4 separate regions of the Homo sapiens genome follow, and regions 2, 3 and 4 are each linked to region 1. Evidence: fine-mapped QTL for protein levels in blood plasma. A gene starts in region 1. Each other region holds a variant in brackets. All regions are shown on one strand. Distances are between the middles of the regions. Region 1 holds the start of FST (follistatin). Region 2 overlaps ARL15 (ARF like GTPase 15). Region 3 overlaps ARL15 (ARF like GTPase 15). Region 4 has its middle 31 kb from the start of FST.

Evidence for each region. A credible set is the group of variants that fine-mapping cannot tell apart. PIP is the posterior inclusion probability: the model's chance that the variant is causal. Protein levels are from antibody-based Olink assays in UK Biobank. Linkage for the fine-mapping came from a reference panel and not from the study's own genotypes, which makes the PIPs less certain.
Region 2: its variant is the best candidate, but not a certain one, in a credible set for the plasma level of the FST protein (UK Biobank, PIP 0.71).
Region 3: its variant is the best candidate, but not a certain one, in a credible set for the plasma level of the FST protein (UK Biobank, PIP 0.56).
Region 4: its variant is the best candidate, but not a certain one, in a credible set for the plasma level of the FST protein (UK Biobank, PIP 0.88).

The regions. Positions count from the first base shown.
Region 1 is chr5:53,477,578-53,482,728 of GRCh38, reverse strand. FST (follistatin) reads right to left here and starts at 2,100. Exons shown (of 6, transcript NM_013409.3): 1 at 1,853-2,100. The coding sequence starts at 1,937. RefSeq lists an enhancer at 798-867.
Region 2 is chr5:54,008,092-54,013,242 of GRCh38, reverse strand. All of the region lies in intron 4 of ARL15 (ARF like GTPase 15), which reads left to right. Among named protein-coding and RNA genes, the nearest start is that of MIR581, 59 kb to the right of the region's middle. The variant A/T (reference allele first, on the strand shown) is at 2,524.
Region 3 is chr5:54,021,516-54,026,666 of GRCh38, reverse strand. The region is part of intron 4 of ARL15 (ARF like GTPase 15); the gene reads left to right. Among named protein-coding and RNA genes, the nearest start is that of MIR581, 72 kb to the right of the region's middle. The variant G/A (reference allele first, on the strand shown) is at 2,980.
Region 4 is chr5:53,446,767-53,451,917 of GRCh38, reverse strand. No RefSeq gene overlaps it. Among named protein-coding and RNA genes, the nearest start is that of FST, 31 kb to the left of the region's middle. The variant A/C (reference allele first, on the strand shown) is at 3,157.

The DNA.
Region 1 (5,151 bases):
GGAAATAAATCGAAAGGGGTGGAGGGGTGGAAAAAGAAGGCAGTGGAGGGGGAAGCCCTGATCACAGAGATGGGAGGTGGGCGAGAGGGAGGGAGGGAGAGAGGGAGAAGACAGGGCGCCCCAGCCATATCAATGTCAGTTACCAGTGACCCAGACACAACACGTGCAGCTTGCATTGACTTTTACTAGACTGTTTACTTTTATTCGTCCCATTTCATAACCTGCAGAGACTCGAAGAGCAGATTAAAGAACCTGACAAAAACAGGATGCGACGGATGTTTTTACATGCTGGTTTCATGTAGGCGGGTACAGGAATTATTTGTGACAGGGGTTAAGAAAGTAAGAGAACGAGAGAGAGGAGAGAGGAGAGATGGAGGGGAGAGAGAGGGAGAAGGAAAGAGAAAGAAAGAAAGAAAAGAAAGAAGAGAAAGAAAGAAAAGAAAGAGAAAGAAAGAAAAAAAGGAAGAAAGAAAGAGAGAGAGGAAGAAAGAAAAGAAAGAGAGAGAGAGAGAAACAGATCAAGCAAAAGGCACTTCTGAAAAATGAAAGCAAAAAAGCAACCCGGCCCAGCCCGGAGCTACCCCGCGCGGCCTCCAGGCGCAGCCAGCCCGACGGGCCCGTTTTGCAATCCGCCAGACCGGAGCACGCCCGCGGCCACCGCGATCTTTCGAAATCTCCGAGGGCTGCTTTCCTCCGCGCCCACGTCCGGGCACCAGGCAGAGCCTCTCCTCTAAAGGCGGGCAACCCAGCGCAGTGCCATGCAGACGGCGAGGGGCAGTGCCCAGGAGGGCAGTTTACAACATACTTAAAATGTTAACGCTGAAGCAGGGAAAGTAATGCCTTAAGGTGGGGGGAGGGGGGAGTCTTCCTACCATTTCACGGTTATAAGTACCTATCTCATACCTAGCAAGAAATATTTGCAAGTGATTTCTCCCTCTTCCCCCTTTTTAATGTTCGGATTTGGGTCGAGAAGACTTCTCATGAATCACCAATATGACTTTAACAATCATTGGATCGCAAGCTGCTATTATTATTTTAAACATTCTGCCCAAAGACTAATTGAAATAAACAAATCTATTTTTAAAAGGCAAGCTTCAGAAATTTGCTCTTAACCCATTTCAGAATTTAAGTCAGTTATGGGCTGCTCACTGTTTTACAGAAAGCTAAGGGTCAGAAAGAAGAATGAGGCAGAGGGGAAAAAAACTGTAAAGTGCTCAAAGCACTTTGGGGTAATAATTTGGCTTTTTTTTTTTTTTTTTTTTTTTTGCGAGAATGGGGGATGGGGTTGGAAGAAGCATCCACTAGGCAGAAAGCTACTTCCCTTGAAAATCTTCAGCACCCACATTTCCAAGTTTGGGCAAAGTTTCTGAAACCACGTCCCCCAGCCACCAAATAAAATTCAGTATCTCTCCCCCAAACCCCCAGGTTTTCTTTTCTTTCTTTCCTTTTTTTTTTTTAAGTATCCAAAAGATGTGGGAGGGAGAGAGATGAGACTGCAAATGGGTCGACTGAAATCTCCAGGCTACTACTGATACTTGTTCCCTTCTTCAGAGCCAAACAGAGGAGATCACATCTAAAGTTATCATGGCCAGAACTTGGAGCATTTAACCCTAACTACTAAGACCCCAGCTCGCTCCCTTTCCTTTTTCAAGATAACCGAGCTCCAAACTCAGTTCCCAGTCCTAAAGTGTCATTGCCTACAATTTTCCCACTCCTCTCCATCCCGGAGTCCCCAAGTTGGTTCAACATCTTCCGAGAGCAGCGTTGCTCAGAACAGACCAAGTGGAGACCACAGAAAAGTCGACCCCCCTGTCCTCAGCCAAGCCTCCCCAGCGCATCCCCACTCGCTTACCCTGGGCACTGCGGTCCTCCATGAACTGGCAGAGCAGCAGCAGCAGGAGGCAAAGCCCACCCGGCTGGTGCCTCGCGCGGACCATCCTGGGGGCAGGCGCGGGGCGAGGAGCGCAGCGGCGCGGGGAGCCGGCGCGGCGGCGGGTGGCTCGGGCGAGCGGCGCGCGTCGCAGAGGCCAGCGGCGGAGGGCGCAGCGATCCCGGCGCAGCCCCGCGCTCGCCGCCGGCCGCCCGCGCGATTCAATGGACGTCAGAAGCCGGGCGCAGCCGCGCTTTAAATCTAGACGGGGGTCTCCGCGGTTTGCGGTGGGCGGTCTCCCAGTGTGTGGGGCTGTGGGAGGGCGGCCGCGAGCGAGGGTGTGCGCGGCTCCTTGGGGGTGGGGAGCTTTCAAAAGTTCAGTGTGAATCAGGTGACATTTCCCACCTTCTGGAAACCCTTCCCAATTATCTTTCGGAGGTGCCCGAAATCAAAACGGCTGGAAGGGAATCGTCGAGTTCTTATTTGCGTAGGAGCGAGAGGGAGGGGGAAGGCGACCGGGGCGGGGGTTGGGGGCTACGCGTCGGGGGTGGGGAGTGGGGAAGAACACCCACTTCAAGTCCTGCTCGCCGCCGCTCGCCGGCAGCGCCGGCGCGCCCGGGGTGGCGGGTGTGTGTGTGAGTGTGTGTGTGAGTGTGTGTGCGCGCGCGCGCGAGTGTGAGAGGGAGGGCGCGGTGGGGGCGCTGGAGGCGGTGGCGGGGGGAACCCGGGAGTTTGTCTCCGTGCTGCCTCTCCTCCGCTCCAAAGAGACTTTTGCAAACGGCCGAAGAGCCCCGGGCTGCCCAAATATCCCGCCCCGGGTCGGGTCGGAGCGCGCCGGCCTCGCGGCGGTTCCGGGCACCCGCAGCCTGGGCGCGGGACCCGCGAGGTTTTGTGTCTGGGTCTGTGAGTGCCTGACTTTGCAGCCACCCCCAGCCCAGAGGTGTTGCTAGGAACCCCGGCCCCGGCACCTTCCACCCTGGCAGAGCGCTACCGAGACGCGGCCCTTCGTCTGGACTAGTCGGAAGCAAACAAAAATGTTTAACACCTCAGGCCCGGTCTCCCCGCGGCACAGCCTCGCCCTCTCCCTTTCTTTTCTCCCCTTTCACTTCGCGGCGTCTGGAGTCGGAGCCCGGAGCGGGGGCGCCGACGTAGGCGGTCTGGCCCCCCCTTCCTCTCCCGCCTGGAGACTCCCCAGTTTCTGTCCTGTGTGCCTCTGTCTGTCTCTCAGTCTCCTCGGCTCCAATCTCTCTCTCTTTCTGTCTCGTCTTCTCTCTTTTCGCGGAATAAAAAAGATTGCAACATCCATAATGAACTTCTGTAGCCTCAGTTTATTAAGTACAGTGCCTGGCATTCTTCGCTGAAAGTTGGCGGGTCTCTCATTTATAACATTTTTGGCACCGCTGAATGAAACTGAGGAGGCGATATTTCCTTTTATATAAAACGATTACTTCACGGAAAATGCTATATTGTTTATTCCAAAGCTGCCTTTTAAATTTGTTCTTTTCGCATCTGAAGCCCGAAGGACAACAGATAGCGAAGTATGCAGACAAAATTCTTGGACATTCGCAGGTCACTGGGATTTGTTCTACGAATTTCAAATCTGCCCTTCTTCCCCCCCTGCAACTGCCCTCCCCCCGCCAGACCCTCCCCCAGTCCTCCTCTAGCCCTCCCACCCCCCATCTTCCGTCAACCTTCCCCCCTCCACAACTGCAAATAACTCAGTGATAACAGATTTTTTTCCACCAACTGCAGGAGATAGTGCTAATCTTTTAATAAAAGATCCCATTACAATGGGATCTGTCTGGACAGACTATAATAGATCCCGAAATACAGCCGTGCTAATATTAGAAGACAGTTGTTTGGGTGCCTCTCAGACGGGCCCAAGCCCCCCTTTGAAAGTGGGCATGAATCACAAAGCCCCGCGGCCGCCGCACCTGCACCGCGCGCATTCGGTGCAGCAGGCTGGTAAAAGCGGGTGACCTCGCCGCCGCTTTTCGCTTTATAATTACCGTCATGAGGACGGGAGGGGAGGGGCTCGGGCGGCCCGGGGGAGACTGGATTTTGCTCACTTCAGACGGCTGTGGGGGCTCCACATCCTTCTTAATCTTTCCAGAATCATTCTGTCTGTTTCTGTCTCGCTGTCTCTCTCCCCTTCTCCCTTTCCCTCCAGTCCTCCAACTCATTCCCTCTGCTCTCTTTCCCCTACTCCTTCCCCTCTTCTCTCCTTCCCTCCCTCTACCCAGACTCTACCCGTACTCTCCCTCCCTTTTCTCCCTCTCTTTCTTTTCCAGTCTCCTTTTCTCTCTTCCCTCCAACTCATTAATGTAGAGTTGTTTAGTGCCCTCTAATGGCAGACGACATTAACAATTAATAGCAAACTGTCCCCTTTGCAGGAGCCGCCACTCAATGGCAGAGTTCCAAAGCTGAATTTATTTCTTCTTTATTCAGAGAAATGGTATAGTCCTTATACAATGATGTGCTGGAGGGAAAGTTTGTTTTCTCTGCTTAAAGGTTCCCCCACCCCTGCCCAGGGATAAGTTAAAGGAAAGAGAAGCTAACAAGTATTGTTACTTGACTTTTCCCCCTACCCTGTCTTTTAATGGCAGCAAGAGACACAGCTTCTTTTTAAGGTAGAGGTATCAAACCGTATATCCAAGGTTGAAAAATAAACATTCCAAATGCATAAAAGATCTCAGATGGTAAGTAACTGGATCTTACAGCAATGCTATCAATGATCATACATAATTACATGATTTTATATTTGTCTCCAGTTTAAATATATTTATTGGTCCTGAATTGGCCAGTAGCCTCTGGAAACTGGGGTCTTTTTCTTAGACTTTCCACCCTAGGACTATACAAAATATTTAAATTTTACTTATATGCCTAGTTGTATATGAAGTCATCTTGCCTGGAGAAATATAGAATCACGTTTTAATCCATATTTATTTTCTCAATATCTTTGGGAAGATTGTTTTAAAGTTCATAATCTCATCATATTTTATAACCGTATAGCAAGGAGAATAGTGATATAACTTGTATGTTCTTATTAGATTTTAATTTTGTTCATTCCTATATGTACATATAACATGTTGATGTAAAAGGGTCATACAAGTATACACAAAGATTACCTTTTTGGGGGAAGGTCTGTGTAGCTAAATGAAGATTAGAATAGAAGCAATTTGGAGGGGCTAGTCAAAAAATTTTCCATGTTTGAGCAAAACTATTTAGTTTGTCCAGATACTTATTTTAGTTTATGTATATAGAAACAACTGATGTCACAA
Region 2 (5,151 bases), 530 kb before region 1:
TATATGAGATAAAACTTACCAACTTAAATTCATTGGCTTGCATATTTTTAACTTGTAAAATGAAATTAGCTTTCTATACTCAGTTTTCAAAACTAATAGAGATGTCTTAAAATTGAATAAAAGAAAGTAGGAAAAAGAAAGAAGTCCGGGCGTGGTGGCTCACACCTGTAATCCCAGCACTTTGGGAGGCTGAGGTGGGTGGATCACCTGAGGTCAGGAGTTCAAGACCACCCTGGCCAACATGGTGAAACTCCGTCTCTACTAAAAATTCGAAAATTAGCCGGGTGTGGTGGTGCATGCCTGTAGTCCCAGCTATTCAGGAGGCTGAGGCAGGAGAATTGCTTGTGAGTGAGCCGAGATTGCACTACTGCACTCCGGCCTTGGCGACAGAGCGAGACTCCATCTAAAAAAAAAAAAAGAGTCCAGCGTGGTGGCTCACACCTATAATCCCAGCACTTTGGTAGGCCGAGGCGGGTGGATCACCTGAGGTTGGGAGTTGGAGACCAGCCTGACCAACATGGAGAAACCCCATCTCTACTAAAAATACAAAATTAGCTGGGTGTGGTGGTACATGCCTGTAATCCCAGGTACTTGGGAGGCTGAGGCAGGAGAATTGCTTGAAGCTGGGAGGTGGAGGTTGTGGTGAGCTGAGATCTCACTGTTGCACTCCAACCTGGGCAACAAGAGCAAAACCTCGTCTCAAAAAAAAAAAAAAAGAAAAGAAATATTATTTTTTGTTGTTTGTTTTTCAACTTGCATAGCCTGGGTTAAATGCAGCCAGTGAGTAATAATGCAAGTCCTCAATCATTCAAGACAAAACTAAATTGTTGTCTTTAGTGATACAAAGGAGAGTGACCAAATAAGAGCTAGGGAACTGAGAGACTTCATGGGATGCATACAAGCATGGAACCCATAAAACAATCAAAACCATGAAGAGGACTATCAGCCAGTTATAGAATCTTTATTTCTGGAAGACTACAATATTTGCTTATCTAAAGGGATGGACAGTATCTTCTCTCATCTCTTTCAGAGCTATTATTTGATCTGAAATATTACAAGGCTATAAAAGGATTTTATAATGTTTGCATGCCATTTTAAGAACACATATAAACAGTGTATTTAAAATCTGTTATTTTTATACAAAGTGATGGTAATTTGTTAGGTATCGCTAGAAATGCTACCTTAAATTTACAATATTTGGTTTGTCTATTAAACATTTATGCTCTTTTTTTTTTGAGACAGAGTCTTGCTCTGTTGCCAGGCTAGGGTGCAGTGGCGCGATCTCAGCTCACTGCAACCTTGGCCTCCTGGTTTCAAGAAATTCTCTTGCCACAGCCTCCCCAGTAGCTGGGACTACAGGTGCGTGCCACCACACGCAGCTAATTTTTGTATTTTTAGTAGAGTCGGGATTTCACCATGTTGGCCAGGATGGTCTTGATCTCTTGACCTCGAGATCCGCCCGCCTCGGTTTCCCAAAGTGCTGGGATTACAGGTGTGAGCCACAACACCCGGCCCTTATGCTCTTTTAAGACCGTAGTTTTCCAGCATTTCCTCCACTGCCTTTGGTTAGACTGCCTGCATTCAAGCTTCCCTTCCTGAATTTTCTGACTTAGCAAGCCTTTTAACTTCGGTGTCTTAGGTTGTTTTAGGTTAAATGTTCTGGGAAAGAAGTTAAAAATGGAACTCATGCTATTTTTCACCCTAACCACCTATATAATCACTATCAAGTTTCTACCCATGAAGAATAGTATTTCCAAATACTGACACCTTTTTCTGTTATTTATTTAAAAACAAACAAAAAACAAAACAACAACAACAACAAAAAACCAACCTCTTCTGATTACAGGAGAAATGTGCTCATTTTAAGAAATGCACACATTACTGAAACGGGTCATATAGAAAGTTGAAGTTCTGTGTAATACAACTTTTTGAGGTAATAATGGTGGAAGTTTGGTGAAACACTTAAATTTTACAGTTTTATAATCTACAAAGCCATAATGTATAGAACTCTGGATATTCACAGTATATATTTCTAAAGGTTGAATTCCTTATATGCCAACTTCTGTGAAACTACACTTATTTTCACTCTAGAGACTTAACCTTGAATCGTGAAATCTGCTCACGGAGGGCTTTTTCCACTCCCGGCACAGGCTAGGCATCTGTCTTATAATTTGGCCTTTTATCACTTCACTAAGGACTTCTTCCACAGTCTTTGTGAGAGCTGATTTTTTTTTTTTTTTTTTGAGACGGAGCCTTGCTCTGTCGCCCGGGCTGGAGTGCAGTGGCGCGATCTCAGCTCACTGCAAGCTCCGCCTCCCGGGTTCACGCCATTCTCCGGCCTCATCCTCTCCGAGTAGCTGGGACTACAGGCGCCCACCACCAAGCCCCGCTAATTTTTTGTATTTTCAGTAGAGACGGGGTTTCACCGTGTTCTCCATCTCCTGACCTCGTGATCCGCGCGCCTCAGCCTCCCAAAGTGCTGGGATTACAAGCGTGAGCCACCGCCCCCGGCCTGATTTTTTT[A/T]AAATTTTTTTTATTTTACTGATTTGATGGAGTCATTGTTGGGATCAATAAAATAATGCGATAATTTCTTCAGAAACCATTGTCATCTTTAGATGTCCTTGGTGTTGGACAGTCTTGGGCTTTGTATTGCAGGTTATTATTATTTTTTATTTAGCTGGCGGTTATTCAGAGCCAAGTCTGGTGAATATTTTGAATCATGTTGGTTCCCTTCCAGATATGGTCAAAGATGAGGTGATATCTACTAGGCATTGAGACTGTTTGTCTTGAATGTCTTGTTAACTAACTCTCTAGATAATTCCAGTGGAAATACTAATGTTTAGCAGTGACAGTATCAATTGGAATATTGCCTATCTTGACAATTTTTTTAGACCAGTGTTTTGGAAGTCTTAAATTTGTAGCTCATTTATTGAAAAATCAATCTACTTGTTTTACTTCATTGTCATTGCTTTGACACTTATAAAGTAATTATTAAATGTAAGGTGAATGTTACTACTATGCATGGATTGTTTAGCAAATCTCCTGTTCAAGGAGCAGATTTTTAGTCCTGTTGAGCCTGCCCTTCAGGAAGAAATGAAGTGAGTGGGGCAGTGTTTTTGTGTTTTTCGGGAGGGCTTTCCTTTTACTCAGGTCTGCTAAAAGAATGCAAATCGCTTCAAAACAGTCATCATTCTCCCTTTCTTTGTGGCCTTATGTGTTGGTCTTAATCTCCTCCTTTCTGTCTTTTTGTTTTTGTTTTTTTCCTCAGTAAAGAGAGTCAGGAGCCTGCCCTTTCCTCCCTTTCTCTCACCTCACCTCCAGGGTGGCCTGAGAATTGAGGAAGAACCTTAAATTCTGCTCTTTGTTAAGAGCTCTGATAACTGGAACTGTTGGAATATTGCTAAAATGGGTTTTGGAGATGTTCCCTACTCTCCCTGCCTGCCATTTCCACAGATTACTGAGGATTGGCTCTGTTGCCAAATGAGGCTGATATTGAGCCTCAAATTTTGACCCATTTTTCATCAAGTTTGTCTTAATATAGAAGTTGCAAGATTTAGTAGTGCAGCAATTATTGTTCTTATAGAAAAAGTCAACTGCATGTTTGCTGAATTCCATCTCTTGGGCTGAAGACAAAAGAGTTTGTGCACAATATTCGCAGTCCATAGTGTTGTAAGCAGGAATGTCTGCAGCAGCCAGAGAGTTCAGGGCAATGTTTTTTGACCTGAAACAGTTACCTACCTAGCAAATGTAATACAAAGCCTAAGTATTACTTTCTATGGAATGTGGGGTGTTTCATAACTAAACAAATCAGTGATGCTGGAATAATATGCTTTAAAAAAACCTTACAAATCTATATTTGAGTGAATGAAATGAATGTTAGAAAGTTTACAATTTTTATGGAAAGCTGGTAATTTTAGGTTGTTGGGTGGAGGAAAAGGAGGGCAACACACTTTGCTAAGTTACTTGAAGTTCCTGCCAGTACTGCTGCCTTCTCCCAAATGATTAAAAAGTCGAAAGCAACTTTGTGGCAATTTAACAATGATGGCAAATACACAGAAATGCAGGGAGATCTTTCATTTAGGCTGTCAAAGATCAGTGGGAATTAAGGCACCTTTGCATTTACATATATAATATGAAGCACCTTTTGTTTTATATTTCACAAATTCTAATGGACATTTTATTTATAATGAAACATGAATACTACTGCCAGGATATTCTAATGAAAATGATCAGCTCATTTTCAAAACCTTAAAATAATGAACATAGAAATAATTTCTAGTGTCTAGTTCTGTAATCTTACATTAAAATAGTTTCTTGGACCTCCAATCAGCCACAATACTGAAATGACAATGCCAGAATAGATAACAGAGATGCAAAATGATTTCCAGTTAATGACATTTTATCTTATTAACGTAAGTATTAACATTTTAATCTACCAGAGGAAAGAAGACTCAAATATTAAAAGAAGAATTCTCTGGAGCAGTTTACAAACATTTTGGGAAAACAAGGATGAAGCACAGGGACTGGGAAAAGATTTCAGTGTTTCTCTTGTTCACATGACAGAGTAGCAGTCAAAATACACCCCTGTGATTTGTCGCATCTGTTAGAAATGCTGCAGTAGCTAAAGGGACGTTCCCTGGCTTTGGTGAAGAAATAAGTAAACAAGCCAGTGTAAAGAGAAAACCCTGGTTAGTGATCAGAGGCCACATTCTCCAACCCCTGCAAGTTCTAGCTTCGTGTAATGCCAGAAAGAGAGAGGTCAAAAGTCTGAGAGAACTTTTGTTATGAAAAGTGTTTGTTTGTATTTTTAAAATTTTGGATAACATAATCCAGTGCTTTGGGTACAAAGGTTTGAGCAATCGGCACCATTTTAATAATGCATTTAGTAGTCGCAATGCATTAACACTTAAAGAGATAGAGTCTAAAATGCAGTTCATGTACACATTTCACAGTCTGCCTGATATTTATTAAGACACACCTTCTTTTCCCTAGATACCTTTTCTCACTATTTCTGTCTTAGGTGGTTACTCATCTCTCCTCACTCTTACATGTAGTGTTTTAAAATTTCATATATATGCCCAGAGGACTCTTGGCATTTAAACAAGTTTCTCTACATTAAAAACAAAAAGTCTGTTTCTGAGTTATAGAAGT
Region 3 (5,151 bases), 540 kb before region 1:
CTGTAACTAGATTAGGAATTTTACTCCTTACAATCTCAAGAAAATTTCCCTTGGCTCTCTTGAATGTTCGACTCAGAATTATAAATTGAAAGGTATAGGCCAGGCACACTGGCTCACACCTGTAATTCCAGTACTTTGGGAGGCTGAGGTGGGAGGATCACTTGAGCCCAGGAATTCAAGACCAGCCTGGCCAACATAGTGAGACCCCATCTCTGCAAAAAATACAAACATTAGCCGGGCATTGTGGTGCACACCTGTAATTCCCAGGTACTCAGGAAGCTGAGTTGGGAGGATCACCTGAGCCTGAGAAGTCAAGGCTGCAGTGAGCTCTGATTATGCCACTGCACTCTAGCCTGGGTGACAGAGTGAGACCCTGTCTCAAAAAATAAAGAAAGAAAATAAATTGAAAGCTATAATTTTGGTATGTGACAGATTATAAGATAGACTTTGATTTTTACTATGTGCAGAATATGATTTTTATTCACTTAATAATTATTTCTTGAACACAATATGTGTCAAAGTTGAAACAAGCTAGTCAGTCTAAAAATTCAGCATTAACTCAGTTACTAATGAAAAACTATAAGGAAATGATTTAACGCATGAAATTATTTACTTCTTTGATAAATGGTCATCACCTTGGTACTAAAAATGTATTTAGGTTTTCTTGGTTTGTTTTTAGAAATTATCCCATCAAGCCCTCTGCTTCTTGGTAGAGGCTATTATAGGAAGTTGGTATTTCTAATATTCCTCCCAAAGAGGCACCTTAAGAAATAACAATACCTATGATTTGAAAAGTTCTATAAATATTTCTAAGAAAAAGTTCCAAGAAGATGCACAATATTCAAGGCAAGTAAAATCCTCCCGGAAATTATTACTGTTATAAGATGATGCTCTAGTAGCATAAAATATTCAAAATCCCTTCCTGGTCAATTTATCCCTGGGAAATAGCTTTCTCACTAATGTGATCGGATTGTAATTACCGAAACAAACAAACAAACAAACAAACAAACAAACAAATAACTTGCCAGTAGCATAGGATCTTTCCCACTAAACTGAGGAAAGAAAAGCAGTGATTATCCCTTATCACTTGGTATTGCTTTTATTCAGAAAGAAACACATGTCTTTTCGTTATAGCACTTTCCGATTTTTAAATTCTTGTTCATGAAAATGTGATTATGATGTACTAGAAATTTGCCTCAGGTTCTTTATCAGTCCAGCATCTTATATTCAAGGTTCCAATTAATTTTAAGAAATTGAATTAAATTCTCTGTTTCCTTACAGAATCGCCTTCACAAGCCATGATATTAGGTTTGCTGTTCTTGGCATGGGAAGTGCTTTCAATATGTGACTGTTGTTTGCTTTTTTTTTTTTTTTTTTTTGGTCCCTTTGTCTCTCTGCAATCATATCATATGTGTGTATTCAACTAGCAGATATAAGAAAACTCAGGTGAGGGTAAACTTAAGCTTTTGGTCGCTATCCTCACTTTCCATTTGTTCCACAAAGAAAGGATTGTTTCATTTCCATTTAGTGGCAGGAAAGTGCTCTCATGTTTTTCTGTAGATATCAAATCTGCCTGGGATTTGGCCCTACTTTTCCTTTATCTTTATTGGTTTTAGTAAAAGTGGAAAATTTATGTTAAAAAATATGTGTATATAACATAAACACACATACTACAAATAGACATATAAAACCTACTTTTATCATTTTTTGTATCACTTTATGTTGAACACTTCATGAAATGTTTATTCCACATTAACTTATTTGGTAAATGCATAAAAAATGTTTTTTTCCTTCTTGAATTGCCTTTTCAAAAGCCTCTGGATTTTATATGTTATACTTTGTGAGTATTTGTATTAACTATAGATATACATATGTATTTGTATATATATCTCTTTTCTTGACACTACAAATTCTTTATCCAGATTATTGAGTAATAGGTTGTTATTGTTAGCTGTTCTGGTTAAATATGAGTAACCATATGTTGTTTAGATATGAGGAAATAGGGTTATGTGTTATGATGAACATAAATACATTCTTCTTGAATATTTGCAAAGTAACTCATAGGCTTGCTTAGGAATCCTCATTATACATCTTATTCCTGGAGACATAATAATTATATGAATTGAGTTAGTACCATACCGACCCTAAAATAACAAGTAAAATTGTATCAGATATTAATTTTAAAATTGTGTCTTTTTACTAAGTTTTTATACAATACAAAGTATTAAAAAGTATGGATAAATCTAACATCGCAGTACATGTTACTCACGAATTTGGTTTTCTTCACAAATCTGCAAAAGTACCATTACCTGCATGTAGCTTCATGTTACATAACTGCCATTGATTTTTATTTTGGAATAATTATAGAGTCACAGGAAGTTACAAAGATAGCTGAGAAAGATCCTGTGTACTCGTCACCGAGTTTTCTCCATGGTTGCATTTTATAAAACCATATAGTACAACAACCAAGCCAGGAAACTTGTATCGTAGGGGCCAAGGGCAAGCCTCCCTCTTTGCCTTCTGAAGGTTCACTGAAAATCAACTGACAAAAGGCAGATTAATAGGAGAAAAGGCATACAAATTTATTAACACACACAGGGAAGAATCCCAGAGTGATTAATCCACCACATAGTGGGGTGCTGATGGTTATATACCCTTCTTCTCAGGGGAAAGGGTGATGGGGAAGTAGGGATGATTTTAGGAGAGTAGTAAATGATTTTTAGGGGAATTCAGTGGGCTTGAAGAACATACACCGGCCTAGGACAAAGTCTGTTGGGCCAGCAGAGCAGACACGATGGTTCGTGACAAAAACCTGCTCAGGTGTGTTGACAGACTTCAGTCTTTCTTCCTGTGATATGAGTTCAGTTAATGAAAACTCAGGGAAGGGACCAGAGGTGATTGTTTTCTTCTTTGGCAAGTCCAGACTCTCAGCAGATAAGGGAACTTCAGAGAATAACTTCATCTTTTGCTTTGGGAGGC[G/A]CAGAGGATTGAGAGAAGGAAGGGAGGAGGAAGGTCAGAGAGGCCTAAGGCTTCTTCTTCAGTTAAGCACATCAAAGCGCCATATTTTGGTGTATCAGTTTCTGAGCCCCAACGGTATAATGTGTACATATAGTTCCATGTCTTTTTTTTTTTTCACATGTGTAGATTTGGGTAATCACCACCATGATCAAGATAAAGTCGTACCCCTTTAGAGTCAATCCTGTATTTCCCATCTTCGAAAGTCTAGAGCTTAAGTCTGCCATTTCATTTTTTGCTTTTTCGACTTAACCGTCTCTTTACCTTTCACTGTTTTGTTTTTCCTGCCTTCCTGAGGGTTATTTGAACTTTGTTTATAATTGCATTTCCATATATCTGTAATATTTTTAAATGTGTCTGTTTAGATTTTTAGTGTCGTTTTAGGTATTACACTGTACATCCATAATCTTTAACAGCCTATTTGTGTCAACATTTTACTAATTCAAGTCCAATGTAAAAATTATTATCTCTCTCTACATCCCTTTACCCTCCTCATTTATAATATAATTGTCTTAAATATTTTTTATTTTTTCAGTCTAGTTTCTTTCGGTTGTTCAGATTGGGTAATTCCTGTTTTTCAGTCTGCAGGTTCACTGACCTGACTTCTCCATCCTGCTGTCGAGCCTATCCATTGAGTTTTTAATTTCATTATTACATTTTTCAGTTCAACGATTTCTACTTATTCTTCTTTATATCTCCTCTTTGAGAACATTGAGAACCACATCAGACAGTGTTGTAATTTTTTCTTCCACCATCAAACATGATATCTCTCAAGAGGAGAAGGGCATAGGGGTGAAGGGAACTTTCCCTCCATCCTTTGAAGGTTCAATAATTTGAGTCTCTGGAATAAAGTTGACAATATACAGATTAACAGGAGAAAAGGCACACACGTTTATTACATGCATATAGACGGGAGCCCCACACAATATGAGACTCAAAAAAGGGCCTGATGGTGGAAGCTTAAATAGCATTTTGAGCTACAGAAAGAAATAAGGGGCTGGGATTTCTGGTGGGAGGTGGTAACAGGTTATAGAGGTTTGAGGGGAGAAAAATGTGTGATGAGCAGAGGCTGTCTTGTTATACGGATAAAGTCTCTCAGCTAGCAATCTTCAGAATAGGTGGTTTTGACCTTTAGTCTCCTTTCCTGTGAGCTAATCTTCTCTGTTTGATAAGATTATAGAGAGGGGGGCTCAAAGCAATTGCATTTCTTCTGGAGGAACTTCCCTTAGTCAGATAAGGGAACTTCAGAGAAAGCACCTTCCTGCACTTTGGGAGGGAAAGAGGGGCAAGAGATGAGAGACAGGGGCAGCAGGGGACTGGAGGAGGGTGAGGAGAAGGTCAGAGAAACCTTGATTCAAAGCACTCAGCATGCCAAAGCACCATACTTTGGGACATTGTTTCCTGAGCCCCAATAATACTTACGCGTATTTTTGCTCTTTTCAATTTTCCTTATTCCCAGTGTTCCAGTATTTCTTCTTTTTATCATTTCTCTTCCATTTTGATAACTTTCTGTAGCCATTTCTTTAGGGTAGGTCTGCCAGTGACAAATTCTCTGAGTTTCCCTTCGTCTGAGTATGTCTCAATTGCCCCTTCATTTCTGAAGGATATTTTCACTGAGAATCAGATTCTGTCTTGACAGATCTTTTCTTTCAGCACTTGAAAATGTTGCATCATTTCCTTCTGGCTTCCGTGGTTTCTGGGGAGGAATCTGCTGTCATTTTAATTTTTATTCTTCTTTAGGTGAGGTGTCCCTTTCTGCCCTGCTGCTTTGAAGCTTTTTCTTTGTCTTTATTTTTCAGAAATTTCATTATGTTGTATCTTGGCATGGATTTCCATGGGTTTTTCAAATGTTTGAGGTTCTCTAAACTTCAATCTGTAAACTTCTTCAATCATTATGTCTTTTTGCCAAATTTGGGATATTTTCAGCCATTGTTTCTTAGAAGAAGTTTTCAGCCACACCCTCTTTCTTTTTTCCCTCTGAAACTTCAGTGACACAAAGGAAATCTTCGATTATGGTCCCACAGGTTCCTGAGGCTCTGTTCATTGTTTTTAGACTTTTTCTCTTTGTTGTTCAGATTGAGTAATTTCTGTTGTTCTGTTAAAGAAATTCAGGTACGCTGATTCTTTTGTTTTCGC
Region 4 (5,151 bases), 31 kb after region 1:
TTGTTTAAATGAAATCCAGTTGTAATCTGACTCCTTTTAATACTTATTATCAACTGTGATAAAGAATTAACTTGTATAACTTGAATGATATATGCACACTTAGGACAAAATTCAGCAATAACAATTTTCATTTGATTCTTTCTTACTTTGATTTGTGATGGGCTTTGGCATGGTTTGGTATGGTAAATGTTGATATTTTCCCTTCTGGAATTTCCAGATTTTCTTTCTATTGATAGAGATAGACATTTTAGCAATTTATTTGCAATCTAGGCCTCTCAGCCATCTCTTTTTCCCCAGGACACCTATTTATATTTCCATCTCTTGGTTATCCTTAAGCATAAAGTCAACATGAACTACTTCCTGTGACAGCAAATCCTGGTTAGAGCTCTCTGGGGTATGAGGATTCCAGTAAAGAGTTGTCTGAGATGGGACTACTAGGGATTGGTCTTGTCAATTCACAAATATTTATTAAGCACCTGCTCTGTGCCCTACTCTCCAGCAAGGTATAATTATTTTTGTCTTTTCACCACTGTATTCCAATGCCTAGTAAAAGCCTGATGAATATTTTTTGAATGAATAAATCCTTGGGAGATATGGAGGCTGCTCTTGGGGTGGGGGGAGAGGGCAGCTGGGCAGAGGAGTAGAAAAAGAACCATTAACCATGCTCCTACTATGTGCTAGGCCCTATGTTTACACTTTCCACATATTGTGATGCACATTTTACAAGAGCACTTTGAGGTAGATGTGGCCTTTATTTTCCACGAAACCCTTGTTTTCCCAGCTGGAGAGCCAAGGAGTAAACTTGGAATCACATAAACAGTATCATTGTGTTCCTAGTTCTGTACTTACACTGTCTCTATTGACAGACCTTAGCTCTTCCAAAGCCCCCCTCAACTATTATGGAAAATGTCTGGGGGTGTCCTCTGTGTACTCATGAAAAGAGGCTTCTTTGCATTTGCCACTGCCCTTCCATTTGTCACATTGTGTCTACCATTTTTTGGCCCCACTGGTCTCCTGCTATAATGTTTCCACCTGTGGATTTCCCCAGGGGTTGAGTTGTTCATTATTCTATGCTCCTGAGGCTGCTTCACTGTCACATGGCAGCCCATTTGGCCCACAGATGATGCCACAGTGTCATGGAACTGTGAGAAAAACAACTTGGTGACTAGATGATCTTTCTCTGGCAGAGGACAAAACATCTGGAGGGAAGGGCTGGCCTGGGCAAGGCACTTATCTAATGTGCTCCTCCAAGGGTGTGAAAGACAGAGGCACAGAAATCACTGCTATGCTGGAGGTGGAGGGTGCATAGCTGGAGCTTCAGGGTAAAGAGGTCACTGTCTGGCTCAGACCACCTCACAATTAAGTTTGTTGTTAAAATAAATCTTCCAACCCCACAGAAGAAGAATAAAGATTGGAAAGGCTTGGCATCCAATGGGAAATGCCTCAAGGGAACAAGTGATATGTCCTTTTCAGAGATCCACAAAGGTTTAGCTAGGAGGGATGTATGACAGGAATAAAAAGCCTGTAAAAAACTTATAGCTTTTCCTCTTTCTCTATTTCTGCAGGAGAAAGTGTCATTTTTACTTCAGCAGTTCCAGGAAGTAGGATTTTGTTTTGGTTAATGTCTATGTCCGCTATTGGAAAGAGCCCCCAAAGTCTAAATTGGTATAGAAGAAATAGGGCAGAAAGCAATCTTTGGAAGAATAATAGATTCAGTCTCAAGAGGTAAGGGGATAATGAAAGGAATAAACTGCAGCATGGACTGGAGTTTTAAGGGTGGAAAATGTAAGTGAGAAAAGAATGATTATTGAGCAGCTGTTAAGAAGACTTCAGAGATAATGATGGAAAAGGAGGAGCTTTAGGATATTTGCTGTGTCTCTTTGAAAAAATGTCAGTAAAAATTTAAGATATTTTCAAGAGTATCCTTGGGTTTTGGACTTATGTTTCTGTTGAATTCAGCACTGATCTTAGACTGGTCATGAGAATAGTTCAGCTATATTTGTGTTGCCATTGTATTAAAGAGCCAAGGTGAAGCCATGAAACCATTGATCAATGGAGTGATGGATTATGAAGTTCTGACAATATGAGTTTCCAGAGACCAGACAAAGCCAGAATCAATATGGGCTGTGGTTGTTGGTAAAGGTTTTAAAGAGCTCCATGGAACATAGCTGGGAATTAGATCTAACAAAAAATATATAGGATTTGAATAAGATGAGGAGAAAAAAGGACATTAGGTAGTAGAAATATCCCAAGTAAAGGCATCAAGGTAGGAATGAGCATTGCATGTAAGGGGAATAGTCAGTTCAGTCTAAGTGAAAGAGAAAATGGAATGATAAATAGTAATTGGGAATTAGAATCTATCAGTAAAGTTAGTATGTATTAGAGGTCAGGTTATGCAGGTTATAGAGGATTTTAGATTCTGAGAGTGATGAGAACTAGGGATTGAGAAGGATTATCTGAAGAAAGAAAGTAATTGAAATGGAGGGAGCCTGGAGACACTTTTTTTTTTTTTTTTTTTTTTTGAGACAAGGATCTCTTACTCTGTCACCCAGACTGGAGTGCAGTGGTGTGATCATAACTCACTGCAGTCTCAAACTCCTGGGTTCAAGTGATCCTCCCCACCTCAGTCTTCAGAGTAGCTGGGACTACAGGCACATGCCACCACATCCAGCTAATTAAATGTTTTTTTTGTTTGTTTGTTTGTTTTGTAGAGATGGAGTCTCTTTATGTTGCTGGGGCTGGCCTTGAACTTCTGGCCTCAAATGATCCTCCCACCTTGGCCTCCCAAAGTGCTGGTATTACAGGCCTGAGCCACCATGCTTGGCCTGAGGCTTTTTAAAAATCCACATGGGAAGCATTTTAGGGTTTGGACTCAGTTGGGAGAAAATGTTGAAAGGATGAATCATAGGATTTTGTAACTGATTAGATGTAGATGGCAGATGTGAGACCAGAATCAAATATAATTCTAATTTTTCTGGTCTAGAAGTTTTGGAGCATTATGGCTTCATCCTTTCATTTATCCACTTAATATTTTCATTTATTCAAGAAATATTTATTGAGTACGTGCTGTATTTTTGGTACTGGGATACAGAGAATAAAGATATCAAAAGCTCCCCAACCTTATGGAGCTTATGTTCAAGTGAAACAGATAATAAA[A/C]ATGTAAATAAGGAAAATATGTAGCATGTTAGCTGTTGATGAATTATTTGAAGAAAATTAAACAGAGAAAGGGAATAATGAGTTGGGAGTATATGAAGAAGGTACAATGATAAATAATTAAAGTAGGAAAGCTGGTAAAGAAGATAGTTGTCAGAGAGATGGACAAAAAACGTGAGTTTGGACGCATAAGTAATATTATTTTCTGGAAAATGTAGGCCAAGAATTCTTATGGGATGTTAGGAATGGAAATATATGTTTGGGAGCCACCAGCATAGCTGTAGTGATTGAGGCTGGCATCCCCGATTGAGGCAAGCCTGAAGACTCAACCTTGGAGGCTACCCATTTTTAGAATTCTTTGGAAAAAGGAAGAAGACCCAGGGAGGGAAGAACAGTCTTCATGATGCCAACAGGTTTAGAAAGAGAGGCAGGAAAGAAAAAGAACTTAGTCCTTATGAATGTTTTCACTTCTGTTATGTAGGTGATAACTAAAAGGTCTAAGTCATCAATCTTTTCCTGTACCCACAGTCTTAATCTTCCTCTGGTAATGTCTTATGACAGTTCCTGCAAATATCAGGAAGATGGCAATGAACCACTTTGTTGCTCAGAAATGGATAACCAAAGTGAAATTTACTTTTCTCTAACACTAAAATGAACCACTGAAATGATAGTGTCCTAAACAGTAGGTGCCTTATAAGTACTGAAGACTTTGTAGAAATATTTATTTCACAACTAACCCATCCACCCACCCTCTGTAAAGCACTTATACTATGTATCTTTATGCCATAGTCCCAGCCTTGAGGTTTTATAATCTAGCATGAACAATACCAATGTGGCATGTTATGAAGGGTCTTTAGACAGGAAAAAGCCTGTAAGTAAATATAATACATGAAACAAAAAGTAAATAGGTAGTTGACTTACATTGTCTTCGGAAGTGCATGGCTTACCAATTAGGCAATTACTTGTGCTCATTTTTACAAGGTAATGTTACTAATCCTTTCCAATAAAGTCAAGGCTGATTATGTATCTGTTATCTGTTTCCTCTGCATTAGAATCTGTTTTTTTAAATTTTAAAAGATTACTAAGATATACAAATCAAGCAAGAATGCTGTAGGGCTCAGAGGGATTGAACTATGAGTCTTAGCCTGTGAATTGTAAAGGTACCCTCTGCTGACACTCTTGTGTGAACTCGTAGGCTGGTATAACAGACAACAGCGATGCAAAAACAAAACAACAACAACGACAACAACAACATAATTCCATGAGACTTTAAGTGATTGTGACCTACATCTCACATTACAAAAATGTTATATATTAATGACCTCTTGTAAAATCAGTGTGTATTCTATTGAATGGAAATTTAATGAGAAAAAAATGGAGTAACATTTAATATTGGTCAAAAACTCTTAACTCACTAGTTTTAGAGAGTTAGTTTACTACCTCTTTGTTCTGTTCATTAACTTGCATGGGAATTAAAACAATCATGAATAATGGAAGTGATTGCAACACAAATTCCTTATCTTATAACAATGCCACATGAAACTAGTAGAGGCTGAAAATATTTGTTTCTATCCTTACATTACACAGCCCATCTTTCAGTGATGGAAAGAAGCAAGTGATCATCTTTAGTCTTGATGCTCATGAATTATGAGTCATCCTCAGCTTGGGAATCTGGAATTGTTGAGTAGTATTAGCCCTGACTTGCGAGCTCATGTTTTGCTATTGGAAACAAGTGCTTCCATTTCCACCCTGTGTTCTGCCCTTTTTTTCTCTGAAGTTCAGGACTTACAAAATTTTCAACTTGAATATTTTTAACTGTTGCTTTTTTTTTTTTTTTTGAGACGGAGTTTTGCCCTTGTCACCCACGCTGGCGCGATCTCGGCTCACTGGAAGCTCCGCACTACCGCCGCCCCTCCCCCCAGCCCCCCCCCACCCCGCCCCCAATCTCTTGACCTCATGATCCGCCCACCTCGGCCTCCCAAAGTGCTGGGATTACAG